3 separate regions of the Homo sapiens genome follow, and regions 2 and 3 are each linked to region 1. Evidence: fine-mapped expression QTL. A gene starts in region 1. Each other region holds a variant in brackets. All regions are shown on one strand. Distances are from middle to middle.

Evidence for each region. PIP is the estimated chance that this variant, and not a neighbour inherited with it, causes the effect.
Region 2: its variant is fine-mapped to the expression of TANC1 in lung (TOPMed, PIP above 0.99).
Region 3: its variant is fine-mapped to the expression of TANC1 in tibial artery (GTEx, PIP above 0.99). The same link has a PIP of 0.9 or more in testis.

What each region holds. Positions count from the first base shown.
Region 1 is chr2:158,966,567-158,970,804 of GRCh38, forward strand. TANC1 (tetratricopeptide repeat, ankyrin repeat and coiled-coil containing 1) reads left to right here and starts at 2,074. Exons shown (of 27, transcript NM_033394.3): 1 at 2,074-2,216. RefSeq lists silencers at 1,860-1,969, 2,030-2,109.
Region 2 is chr2:159,096,575-159,100,812 of GRCh38, forward strand. It overlaps TANC1 (tetratricopeptide repeat, ankyrin repeat and coiled-coil containing 1), which reads left to right. Exons shown (of 27, transcript NM_033394.3): 4 at 1,063-1,260. Among named protein-coding and RNA genes, the nearest start is that of MIR6888, 88 kb to the right of the region's middle. The variant C/T (reference allele first, on the strand shown) is at 2,509.
Region 3 is chr2:159,054,999-159,059,236 of GRCh38, forward strand. The region is part of intron 2 of TANC1 (tetratricopeptide repeat, ankyrin repeat and coiled-coil containing 1); the gene reads left to right. It also overlaps the pseudogene GSTM3P2. Among named protein-coding and RNA genes, the nearest start is that of TANC1, 88 kb to the left of the region's middle. The variant G/A (reference allele first, on the strand shown) is at 2,432.

The DNA of each region.
Region 1 (4,238 bases):
CTGTGTGCACATTTCAGATTGCTAGCTGTATGCCTGTTTAGAATGTTAAATACTCCTAACTAGGCAGTGATGAAGTTACTTCTTTAGTGACTGTGACTTCTGAAACTATAAAGACAAAACTTTTTCAACTAAAAATAATTTAAAGATGATGTCAGTAATGAACATATTTATGTGATTTTCTACTTGCTACTTAAGGAGCTTTGAGAGTAGAGGGAAAAAAATTGCACTGCCTTCAAAGCCCTATTTAACTAAGCAATTTCATCAAAAATTTGGAAATACAGCTGAGAAGAGCCAAAACCAGAAAAATGTGGTACAAATGATAAATTTCATCCATTATACCTTTCTCCCATTATAAAGAAGTCTGGAGCAGGAAATCTTACCAGTCTATTTTCTTAGGATTGTTTCTCTTATATTTTAATATTTCAGATTAGTTAGACTGCTTGGAGTTTTTGTCTTTTGTTTGCATCATTCTTTTATCATTAAGGTTGCTGTCTGGCTTTTTTGTCTGTTGAAAGATTTCGTTTCAAGATAAATTAAATAAAACATTACCATATTTTTCAGCAATGAAACATTTCAGATGGAGAAAGAAGTCAATAGTTTTCTGGTTTAAGTTTGTATTTTTATTTTCAATATTCTATCCTGCCTTGTTTCGGGAATACTTCAAGGCCGCTGATGTGTTTACTGCTCAAATATCAACACAGCAGTAATCAGGCCTTTGAAACTATGGGTGAAAAATCCAGTCCATTTCAGTCTTTTTAATTTATGAAAAGAGATTGTGTGGCATTTTGCTTCCTGTCCCTTTTCATAAGAACTTTAAATATGGACACCCCTCCTGCTGGTGTCTTTATATAGGGAAGCTCTGCGTGAGGTTGAAGTTTTTATGAGGAAACTTGTTTAAAACACAATCGTATTTTAAGGCGGGTTTGCCACAGCAAGGTTAGGGGTTACCAATAAATCGGTTTACAGCAACTTCTCTATTCTCTGCTCCAGACACACCAATGGGGTGACCCGTGCACAATTCCCGCTGGCCACACAAGGCAGCGGCAGTTCTAGTTGATCCTTCCTTCGTCAACTAGATCAACGAAGGCTGTCTTAGAGAGCTTCGGGTATTAAGTGAGCAGAGTCCCTTAGGCCAATTTGGCTGCCTGGGATTCCTGGGAGGATCTTGGAGAACCCAGGACACCCGAATCCCTAGTCCCTATCCTGGTTTTTGCTCTGCTGGAGAATAACAAAACATTTTGGGAACTCAGGAGTTTAATTTACTGCCACCAACCGACAAAATAATAGCATCTTTGTGTGTTCTCTCCCCTCCGTCCCTCCCACCTCCTTCCGACAGAAGCACGACGCTGGCCCTCTGTGAATGTAGCGCAGACAGCACGGGCCAGCCCGGAGCGGTCGCAGGAGGCTCCAGACCCGCGGCCCCAGGGACGCCCGGGAAATCACCGGCCCCAGAACGTCCCCCATTCCTTTTGGGAAATAAAAAGACGCAGCCGGTGAGATGCCTTCTTAGACCTTCCAGCTCATTTAGCTGATTCTGGCCCCAGAAAGTGTGTTTGTGTTTGTGTGTAGTTAAGTGAGGCAGAGAAAATCCAAGAAAGCCGCACAAGCCACCCCAAAGCGTCCACGGAAACTCCAGCTCGGTTAATTGCTCCCATATGTCCTCCTCGGCTGTGGTAAAAAAGCAGCGAGGAGGGAAGGCCGGGTCGCTTTATTGATTTTGAAGAGGCTGTAAAAAAGACTATGGCCCATCTCATTTTGGTCCCAGAGGGGCCTAGGCGCAGCCCCGGGGGACCCGGTGCCCAGAGGGATGGTAGGGTGCTTCAGGCCCGGACCTGGCGCCGAGAGGCGGGACAAGGGGACCTCGCGCCCAAGCCCCGCGGAAAGTTCGCGCTCCGCGCTCCAGCCGGTCCCTGGATCCGCCGCAGCCCGGGGCGGGGAGGGGCGCGGGAGGCGCGGCCGGGGCGGGCGCGCGAGAGGAAGGTGCCTTCGGGAACACGCGCAAGGGCGGGGATTCGCGCTGCCAATGAGGCCCCGGTGTGGGCCGAGCAAGGCGGGGGGACGGGCCGGAGCGGAGGCTTTGCTGTGGCAGCTGCTGGAGCGGCGGCCGCCTCGGGAGCCGGAGGAGAGGCAGCCGCGGAGCGCCGAGCTGGCCTCGCCCCGAGGCCCGGCCCTGGGTGTGGGGAACCGCGCTGAGGAGCTGGAAACTTTCCCGGCAGGTAACTCCCGCAGCCCGGACTCCGCCGCGGGCCTGCGAGCGCCCCGGGCATGGCCAGCTGCCAGTGTGCGGAGAGGTCGAGAGGGACCCGGGGTGGAGAGGGTGATGGGAGAAGGGAAAGGCGTGTGGGAAAGTTTCTGGAGCGCCCCCTCCTCCGCCGGGCACACCCGGGAGCTTTCCGGGAATAGGCACAGACATGTTGGGCGCCCCGGGCCTTGGTCTCTCGGCGGCTTTGGGGAGTCCGCACCTTCCTTGCGCGGTTCCCCCGCGCCGGACCGAGCCGGCCTCCCCTGGAACCGGTGTGGTGGGAACCGGGAACGCTTGGGGCACGCTCGAGTTCTGGGACCACCCCCGCCCGGCGCGCCCGCTCGCCCCCTTTCCCGCCTTCTCTGTAGCCCTCGGGCTTGGCAAGGGCCTGGGCTACGCCTGGTACCTGGCGCGGGGGAGGCGGGGGGAGGCGCGCCTGGCACCGCGGGGTCCTGGGCGCCCCCCGGAGTGTTGGGGTGCGCGGGTCGCGAAGTTGCCGAGAGAACTTAAGCCGGAGGCATGGTATTGCCCCAGTCTGGGCTGAAAGTCTATTGCTTTGCTTCCAAGAACACTGCGATTAGCATATCCACACTCCTTTATTGGGGGTGGGGGTGAGTTAGGATTAGACGTTGGGGGTTTTTCTTTAGGGGTGGGGCGCTGAGAAGAGCGGTAATTGTCAAGATTGTGAGCCCCCTTGTTCTTGGATGCAGAGTGGTCATTTTCGGGGGACGATATCAGGGCACTGGCTTCCTGGAGGACTTTGGGGTGCGGGCGCGCAGCGCTGTGGGTGTGCGGGGCTCCCGGCTTTGGCGCGGCGGCTTTCCGGAACGCCTGGCTGGGAAGGAAGCTCTAGGCATTGTGTGGTGTGTTTGCAGACAGAAAGGTCCCTGGACCGGTGTTCTCAAAACTTACTGGACTTATTGTGTAAAGCTCCGGGAGGAAATGTGGCGTTGGCCAGGTAGAAACGCGGCGCTGCGGCCAAGGGGCGGAGGACGCCAGGCTCGGCAACGGCCTTCTCCCAGCCCCCTCCTGCCAGCTCCAGATCCGCGTGCCTCCAGTGTTGGGACCGTTCTCAGTGGCGTTGTTCCCTGCTGGAGTTAACTTGGGAGGTGAGGAGGGAACTTTCATCTTGAACTTGACCCCAGAAGCAGCGTCGTCCGTACAGGTTACAAGGTAAATGGAAGCTGAGTCTTAACGTGGGTTGGACCGCAAACTCTGGCTGGCGCGGAAAGGAAGTTCCTGGTTCAGAATCTTTGAGGAAAGGGCTCAAGATTGCTGAGATCGCTCGCTCTGGAAATGCCAGACACACCAGACTGCAGAAGTTAATGCGTGTTTGGAGGGGTGGGGGTGGGAGAGGAAAGGAGAAACCTGGTTAGTTGGCACAGAGGGCTGGTATTTCTCTGTAGTGGAAATGAAGGGAGTCTGCGTCTCTGCTTTCACCAGATCCGCTACCCTCTTTTTTCCTTCCTTGGTCATCTTTATTCCTGCCAGGCTGGCACTCCTGAGGCAGGGGAGGGGAAGGAGAGGAAAGCAGTTGTGAAGCTTCCTGGGTCAGCCTGGAGGTATTTCAGATCTGCTACTAGGAAGATTCCAGGATTTTAACAGCTGCTTCTTGATTGCTGGGAATGAAGGAGTTTATGAGCGGCTGAGACTACTTCATTATAGAAGTAGTCTGAGTGTTTTACTCATCTAAGCTACTTAAAGACCTCACAAGGGACCTTCCCTAGAGTATGCCAGTTTCTGCAGTTTGTGTCAGCCAGAATGCTTGGTGAGTGTTAGTCAAAAAGCATCATAAATATATCCTGGTGGTTCTGAAATGAAAAGTATGTGGCAGTAAAGGAAGTATGGTATCTGATATCCTTCAGGACTTCCTCCTAGGGTTGTTCCTGTTACCTGCCAAGTGAACTTGGTTCAGGCTTCCGGACTGTTGTGATTTGACAATAAGAGATGGGAAATAGTGTCATCGATTTTAGTGGAAGCAGGAAAAGTCCACAAA
Region 2 (4,238 bases), 130 kb after region 1:
CTGACGCAGGTAGCCCCTGCTGCTGTGTTGTTCCCCTATTGGCTAGGGTTGGACCACACAGTCTAAGCTAGTTCTGACTGACTGTTTTAAAGAGGGCAGGGGCATGAGCCAGAATGGCGGGGTTTGGTGGGAAGGACGGTGAGGAACAGGTAACTAAAGGTGACTTAGGTCAGAGCAGGTGACCGGGATGAGTCAGGACAGAGCAGGTAACCAGGGAACAGACGTGAACTACTAATTAGGATTGGCGGGAAAGTTGTTGACTGAAACTAGAAGCGAGAAGCCAAAGAGAACCAGGAAGTTAAACTTTAAAATGGAGAATCAAAGAATAAGAGCTGAACATACTGACATACTGGTTTTTTTGAGGAGAAACTTGGGGTTTACCATATTTAACAATGTTTAATTTCCTAATAGTAAGCTTGTTTGTTCCCAAGCTTGTTTAGGGGTGGAGTGTCAAGCGGAAGCTGCCTAATAAGTGAGCAATGTTTCCAGTCCCATGACTGGTTTGGGGCTGTTTGAGTTTTAGGAGGGTGGCCCTGTGTCATGGGGAGTGTTGAGTAGATGGGATGGGAGCCAAGGGATGGTGCTGGGGAGGAATGTGGATGTAGACTACACTCTCACTTAGTCTTTTCTTATTAGAGAGGAGCAGTGGAGGCCTGGGAGTTCTGGAAGGGTTGGTATCTGAATCTGTTTTACTGATACTCATGTAAGGCTAGTAAGCCCTCTCCTTTTCCTTTTCTGAGATCAAAGCTTCTTGTGGATCATTCATACTTGACCTTGATCTAATCCCAGATCAGTGGCTTCCTGGATCCTTTGTTAGGGATTGAAACCAGATCAGTTAGGGTAGTGCAGAAAGGCACATGGAGCAGAGTTCACTGATGCTTGAGTTTTCCCTCACAGGGTAAAAAGTTTCAAGAGTAGTGGGGGAAAAGTCATTTAAAAAAATTCAATACACACATCTGATATGTGGGAATTATATTCTGAGAATATAGTTTATAGGAGTTAAATTTGCATCAACTTATAATGAATGGATGGTTTAACCTAAGTATTCTCTCTCTACTCTAGGAAGTGACTTTGGTCCAGAGACTTCTCCAGTCCTGCACCTTGACCACAGTGCTGACTCTCCTGTGAGCAGTCTTCCCACAGCAGAGGACACCTATAGGGTGAGCTTGGCCAAAGGTGTCTCGATGTCTCTGCCTTCCTCACCTTTGCTGCCTCGACAGTCTCACTTGGTGCAATCAAGAGTGAACAAAAAATCCCCAGGTAAACAGGCAATGAAGGAGCTGCCTTGGTTATATATGTAGTACCTGCATTGAAAATAAGCAAAACTAGTGCCCATGAGAAATCTTCTGGGACAATGTTTTTTCTTTGTCGCAGTATCTTCTAGAAGAAATAAATCTTTTTTTTTTTTTAATTTAAGGAAAAAGTATGGTTTTAATAGATTCATCCTGTTTGGACTACCAGGCTAGATTTTTATAAAGATTAAAGATTTTGTTATCAGTACTGATGTTAACCAGCAATTTTGTTGTTTTCTTGCTGATGAATTAAGGAGCACTATACAGTTATGGCACCGACTAATGATGTTTCTTTTGATCAATGACAAACTGCATGTATGATGGTGGTCCCATGAGGTTATAATACTGTGTTTTTACTGTACCTTTTCTATGTTTAGATATGCAGATACTTGCCACTACATTAATAGTTGCCTACTGCATTCAGTATAGTAACGTGCTGTACAGGTTTGTAGCCTAGGAGCAATAGGCTATGCCATATAGCCTAGGTATATAGTAGGCTATGCCACCTTGATTTGTGAAGTACACTTGAGGATGTTCGCACAATGACAAAATCACCTAATGACGCCTGTCTCAGAATGTATCCTCATCATTAAGTGACACATGACTGTAATCCAAACTCATACGTGGTGTGTTTAAAGGTTATGGATGTAGGCAAATGTCATCTGACAATAGTCTATTTATTACTACCTAGTATATACTGATGTATTTCATTTGATTACATCATCTAGCATTTGAACAGCTATAAAGTTTGTTTGTGAAAACTCAGACTTGTAAAGGGGGGTGGGGGAAACAGACTTTGGATTATTCCTATTATACTTTGGAAGTATTTTGGCTTCCCTCTATCAATGTGTTTTACACTTAACATTACCCAAAAAAAACAAAACAGAACTTTGAGAGGTTATGATTCACATGTGAGGAAAGCCTTTCTAAAATGCTGATACCTTGAGTTTTAAAAATTCTTGGATTTTTTTTTTTTAAGGTTTGTGGAGTGTTTACAAAAGGCGGATAATTTGGGGCCCAGTTGATCATATGCCAGTGTAAGGATTCTTCTCAATTACATGTAAACATATTCAGAATCTATCAAAAATGTGCCTAGGGCTGTGAAATGGTATCTGTTTCTCTGATTTCCTGGTAATATTTGTATTACTTGAGATCACCTATGCTGACTCATTTAGTAGATCTTTGAGGTTTATGTGCGGGTAAAATTAGGAGGGCA[C/T]CCTTAAAGGCTCTGAATGTTAGAAACGGTGCTATGAATTTGTGAGTGTCCAAAATCTTTTATTGTTGCAGAATTTTCTGGTTTAGGACAACATTGTTTACAATCCATTAATTAGCTGGAACTCAGGAACCTTTTTGGTATGAAGTAATTTCCTGTGCCAAGGAATTTGACCTGTTTATCAGTATTTGGGGAAGTTCCTGGAATGTCCGTCCTTCCTTCTTTGCCCTCCCTCACTGCTGTATCTCTTTGTCACATTTCTTCTCTTCCTTCAAATCATAGTTCCCACACTGCCTGTCATACTGGGTTATCCTGATTGGAATTACTCTTCCCAAAAAGTATGCACAGTGTTTTACTTTTTCTTTATTATCAGGTACGTCATTTGTCCTTTTCCCCTGAATTAGTGGGTATATTGACCAAAAAAAAAAACAAAACAAAACAAAACAAAAAAACTTTGCTTGGCTACACTGTAGTCATGCTCCTGAACTTTCTCCTAGGTCTGTGTGTGTGTGTGCGCACACATTTTCTTGTAAAATCCAGGTTTAGCTAAGAAGCATGCTACTAAGTTTAGCAAGAACGCCTCCCCACCCCCACCCAAATCTGATTAGATTCCTCATCCTCCACCATCTTCCAGGTGACATCTGGTCACCCTGACCTGTCTTTAACAAGAATTGCCTTCCTACCCCTGATGTTGCCTCTTAGTAATTTTTCATGCACCGATACCTACCCTGTTCCTTGGCTATAAATTCCCACTTCCCCATGCGGTATTTGGAGTTGAGCTCAATCAACTCTTTCCCTAACTGCAAAATCCTACTGCATTGGTCCCTATATGTGTTAAGATGGTCCTGAATAAAGTCTGCCCTACTATGCTTTTAAAAGTATCACTGAGTAGTTTTTTCTTCTTAAAAACATTATGTGCTTCCTCTGTCTGATGCTTGAGGACAAACAAGATGTCTTATACCTCATCTCTATATAATAGATAATAGAGATAATTCAGAAACTATCGATATTTTTAAGGGATCTCTGTTGAAGGTAATGCCAAGTGCAGAGATTTGACCTTTTGTACAATTTGCCTACCTATAGTCTGTGCTACTGCAAATGAATTAATGTTGCTTGGGCCTTAGGACTGGGGAAAACCTGAGAGACTTCAGGGAAGACTGCATGTCAGATATAATTTTATTCACAAATTCAGTGTTTTAGTGGGACTTTAGGTGGGATTGAATGGCATGGCAAGCCTGGAGAGTGTGGCTACCCAGAAAGGTTTCATGGAGGTTACAGGCATGGAGGCAGAAGAATCCCTGATGAAGCCATGTCTCCTTATATGTGTGTGGACCACATTAGTTTTTGTCTTTTTTCAAGAAAATATCCTCAAGTTTTTCTCCATAGGAATGAAATTTATTTTTGCTAAATTCTTTGCAAGGCCTTAGAATAGAAGGTTAATAGTTCTGAAACATACAAGCTTCTGGTGGATTTGGGATGTTCTCTCTATTAGATGTTTTTGGTCCAAATGATAATTAAATAAACTAAGCAGATACATCTCTAACGGAGCAGTGCTTGTTCACTGCCCAAATTTGTACAGCAAATTAGTGTCTCACAGTGGTAATTTGGCTTCATTATCTTGGTAATTTTAATTGGAAAAGTTTAGGGCAGAGATGCTGTTTAAAAATGGCAGTGACTCAATACATCAAATGATGAACAGTATTTTTTTTCAGTGTCTAACACAGATTTCTGCT
Region 3 (4,238 bases), 88 kb after region 1:
GTATTCTGGGAGTTGCGATTGCACATCAGGAAGGTGGGCAGTGTAAGTTGGGGATTGTAGCTCTGTTGTATGACACAAGTGGGAAACAACAGGAAGGAGAAAGGAAAAGAGAATGTAATTCTGAGTGTGGTTGTTGTGGAGCTAACTGTCATAAGGAGGATTGGGACTTGGGTTTCCGGTTGCCCTAAACCTTACACAAAGAAAGACTCTATGGCCCTAGCCACGCCTTCTACTGAGTTATGTGAGAGGAGGAGACCACGATCAGACTGTGGTTCATACTCAAACCCTAGGTGGTTCTCCAGGAGCTTTTTAGCTGCATGGCTACTGGGTCCCTGAGGTGATGCTGGTATCCATAACTGCTACACTTTCATCCTCATGCAAAGCCTCCCTTTCTTTGAGGCGTGTATTCTGTGCTGTCCTGATCACCTCCCTATTCCCCCTACCCTCAGTTCATTGAGGACTTTGGAGGCAGCTATTCAGTGCCTGAGCTTTCAAGTCAGGCCTGGGTTCACATCACAGATTTGCCTTTACTAATCCTGTGGGCTTTATCATTGTCTGGAATTGTTCCACATCCAAATTTTAAAAATTCTTTAAAAAGAACCAGACTCTTTCAACTTCCTCATTCATTTATTCCGACTGTGTTTGTTCTTTGATCTCTTTGAGACACCATACTTTTTCTCTCTGGCTATCCTACCTCTCAGGGCTTCATTCCCTTCCTGACCAGCCTTGATTTCACAGCACACCACTCTGAGCACTCCTGTACTGGCCCCTGCACTGTGAACTCCTGATCATTGATCAGATCCTGCATTCTCTGGACCATCCCTGGATGGTTCTTGGGGCTGAGAGTCAGAGAAGGGAATTGCACAGCATAGCTTATTTATTTATTTATTTATTTATTTTAGCCCAAGTGCTGTTTATTTAAAAGAACAAAAAAGAGTGGAGGCCCCCTAGGGACGGATGAAACAAAACTAGCAGTGCAAGTCTGCCTCTAGCTCAGCATAAAAGCTTGTTGCCCCACTGGGCCATCTTGTTGTTGATAGGCATCTTCAAGAAGCAGTCAGACTGCATGTAGGCAGCAATTTTCTCCAAAGCCTCAACGGCACATGAAAGCCTTAAGATGTGGGAACTCATCCAGGCACTTGGGCTCAAACATGCACTTTTGATCCAGGACGTCATAGATGGGAAAATCCACAAAGGTGAGCTTTCCCCTGCAAACCATGAGAATTTCTCCCAGGAACATGGAGAATTGTTTCAGTTGTTCAGGTAGCTGTTCCAAGTACTGAGGTTTCAGGGTTGGTTTTTATTTATTTTATTTATTTATTTTTTTTTTTGAGATGGAGTCTTGCTCTGTCGCCCAGGCTGGAGTGCAATGGTGCGATCTCGGCTCACTGCAACCTCCGCCTCCCGGGTTCAAGCTATTCTCCTGCCTCAGCCTCCTGAGTAGCTGAGACTACAGGCGCCCGCCACCACGCCCAGCTAACTTTTTGTATTTTCAGTAGAGACGGGGTTTCGCCGTATTAGCCAGGATGGTCTTGATCCCCTGAACTTGTGATCCACGAGAAAAGAGAAGCCTCCCAAAGTGCTGGGATTAGAGGCGTGAGCCACTGCGCCTGGCCAGGTTTCAGTTTTTCATGGTCAGAGTTGTAACAGCACTGTATCAGTTGTGTGCAGAAACTGGTTGCTTGGTTCTCTAAAATGTCCACTTGAATCTTTTCAGTCTTACCACACATGTGCTTGCCAGCAGTGTAGCACAAGATGGCATTGCTCTGGGTGACCTTGTTCTTCCCGTCCATGAAGTTGGGCAGATTAGGAAAGTCCAGGTCTAGCTTGAATATCACATCCAGCCATTGGCTTCAATCATAGGAGTTTCCTGGCATGTGTACCATTTCTCCTCATAGGACATATCCGTGAACTACAGGAGCAGGCAAATGGTGTGTGCCAGCCCGCAAATATTCCACTAACCCAGAACCATAGATGAGTTGCACGATATGATGATGCTACTTGTGAGCCTTTGAGGATAGGAGCAGTTTCATAATCGGGTGTTATGGCCTGGTCTGCAGCCTAGTTTGGATGATCAGAGCTGTTCAGCTGTCCGTTTTATTGTTTTTGGTTTTTCTGAGAATCTCCTTCTGTTGCCCAGGCTGGTCTCAAAGGCCTGGGCTCAAACGATCCTCCCAAAGTGCTGGGATTACAGGCGTGAGCCACCATGCCCAGCCAGCTGTCCTTTTAATCTCTTACTTGCCTTCCTCTCATCTACAGGGCTATCCTGAACCTTCACTGCACCTCTTACCTTGTTTTTACCTTGTAGACAAAATGGAGGCATGAATGTTTTTAGCTTCCTGCTCATGTTTGTCCACATGTTGTCTTCCTCCTCTGTCAGTTGTACTTGCCTTTGTGTCCCTTGTTGTTTGGCACAGGGTAGCAACGTACA[G/A]ATGTATGTCGAATGAAAACCTGCAATTGCTAACCCAACACTCATTCCTTAATTGGAAAATTAGGTTGTAACCCAATTTCTGCCACTTGCTGGTCCAGGAGAGCCAGGGCAAGTTTCTCCATTGCTCATAGCCTGTAGAAGGATATTAATTTTACTTAAAGTTATTAAAGGATAACAGTCTGTTTTTAGGTACAATAATTCCCTTTGAAAATTATAGATTAAAATTATGTTTCTCCACAACCATTCATTGATGTTGAAATTGGAAAACAAATACTTTGCTGGGGTGGGGAGCAAGGCAGGGTCTGACCATTCAGAGGCCCAAAGCCTGGTGAAGGAAGCAGGTGTATAAACAATTAAAATAAGATGAAGAAGGCTTCGAAGATGAGGTGATTCTGTGGTGTGTTTTGAAGTGGGTGGGCTTATGAAATTCTTTTGCTTTCTCTAATATATCTAAACATCTATGTAAATACCTGGATGATATACAGTACTAGTGACAATATTGGAGTTTTGTCTTCTAGTTAGCCGTGTTTTGCTGCTGTGGTAGGGAGGTAAGTCTCAGCTAGGGAGCACTCAGGTGACAGGGAAATGAAGACAGGGAACTCCTGCCTGTAAGTGAGCAGGAGCTCTCTGCAAGACTGAGCTCTGCCTTGCACAGTAGCCATTGGCCTGGGAGACATCATGATTATTGCTGGAAATGCTGCCCTTTCTGAACCCTTCCTTTTTTTGAAGGAGAGTGTATTGATTTCAGATTTTTGGCTACTGTCTTTGCACTTATCCCTTCTGTGTGCCTATTTGAAATACCCAAATAAAACCTACCTGCAGCCAGTGCTTCTGAAAGCCTGTTATTTGAACAGATCTTACTGTGTTAAATGTGCACTTCTTCATGTATACACCAAATTATTTTGACCATAAAGTTGGGAATTAGTACTTGGTACCAGAATTCTTAAATTATTAGTCCAAACTCCTTGTTGGAAGAGAATTGCCGTTGATTTTGATTTCCCTTCCATAATAACCCTGCCACTCATTTAAAGACTTTTTTTTTAGTGTTTGTTGTGTGTAAGGTACATTGCTAGATGCCATGGGGGATTTGTGGAGTTCAACATTTTTCACCATAATTTTGATCTATCATCATATTAGAACAAGGCAGGATGTAGAATTAGAGAAAACATATCTTTTGACCATTGTGGCCTGAGAAGGCTTTATGGAAGAAATGGTGTTAGAATTTGGATTGAACAAATCCCTTTACAGGTATATGAAGATGGCTCTTGTACTTAGAAGGAAGCAACTTCTTTATCGTCTCCTCCAAAAGTGAAATTTTCTTTCTGCCAAGTACTTATCAAAATACTAATTTTCTAGTAACTTGAAATACTGGCTAAGGTAAGGTGTTTTGTTTGTTTGTTTGTTTGTTTGTTTTGGTAGAAACTCTTCCTGAAACAACCTGTATGAATGTACAGAATATTTTAAATATAGGTGGAAGGTGATTTCACCACAATAGTTTCCACTTAATTTTGGTGCATCAGAACTTAAGCATTTGATTTCCAATTTCATGCCCAGAACTCTTTTAAATTCATATTACTTGTGACTGTAAATTTACTATGCTTTTTAATAACTTATACTTAAATCTGAAGTGTTTTTGCTTAGGACAAAACTATAAAGAATAGAATAGTAGAATAGAGTTCAGCTTGTAGAATGGGTTGTTGAATAAAGAATGAATGACTGGATCTATGTGTCTTAGAGAATAAATTATAGTTTAATGTCATATTTTCCAGCTATGCAAATTAAGAAAAACCAGACTAGGTGCTGTACT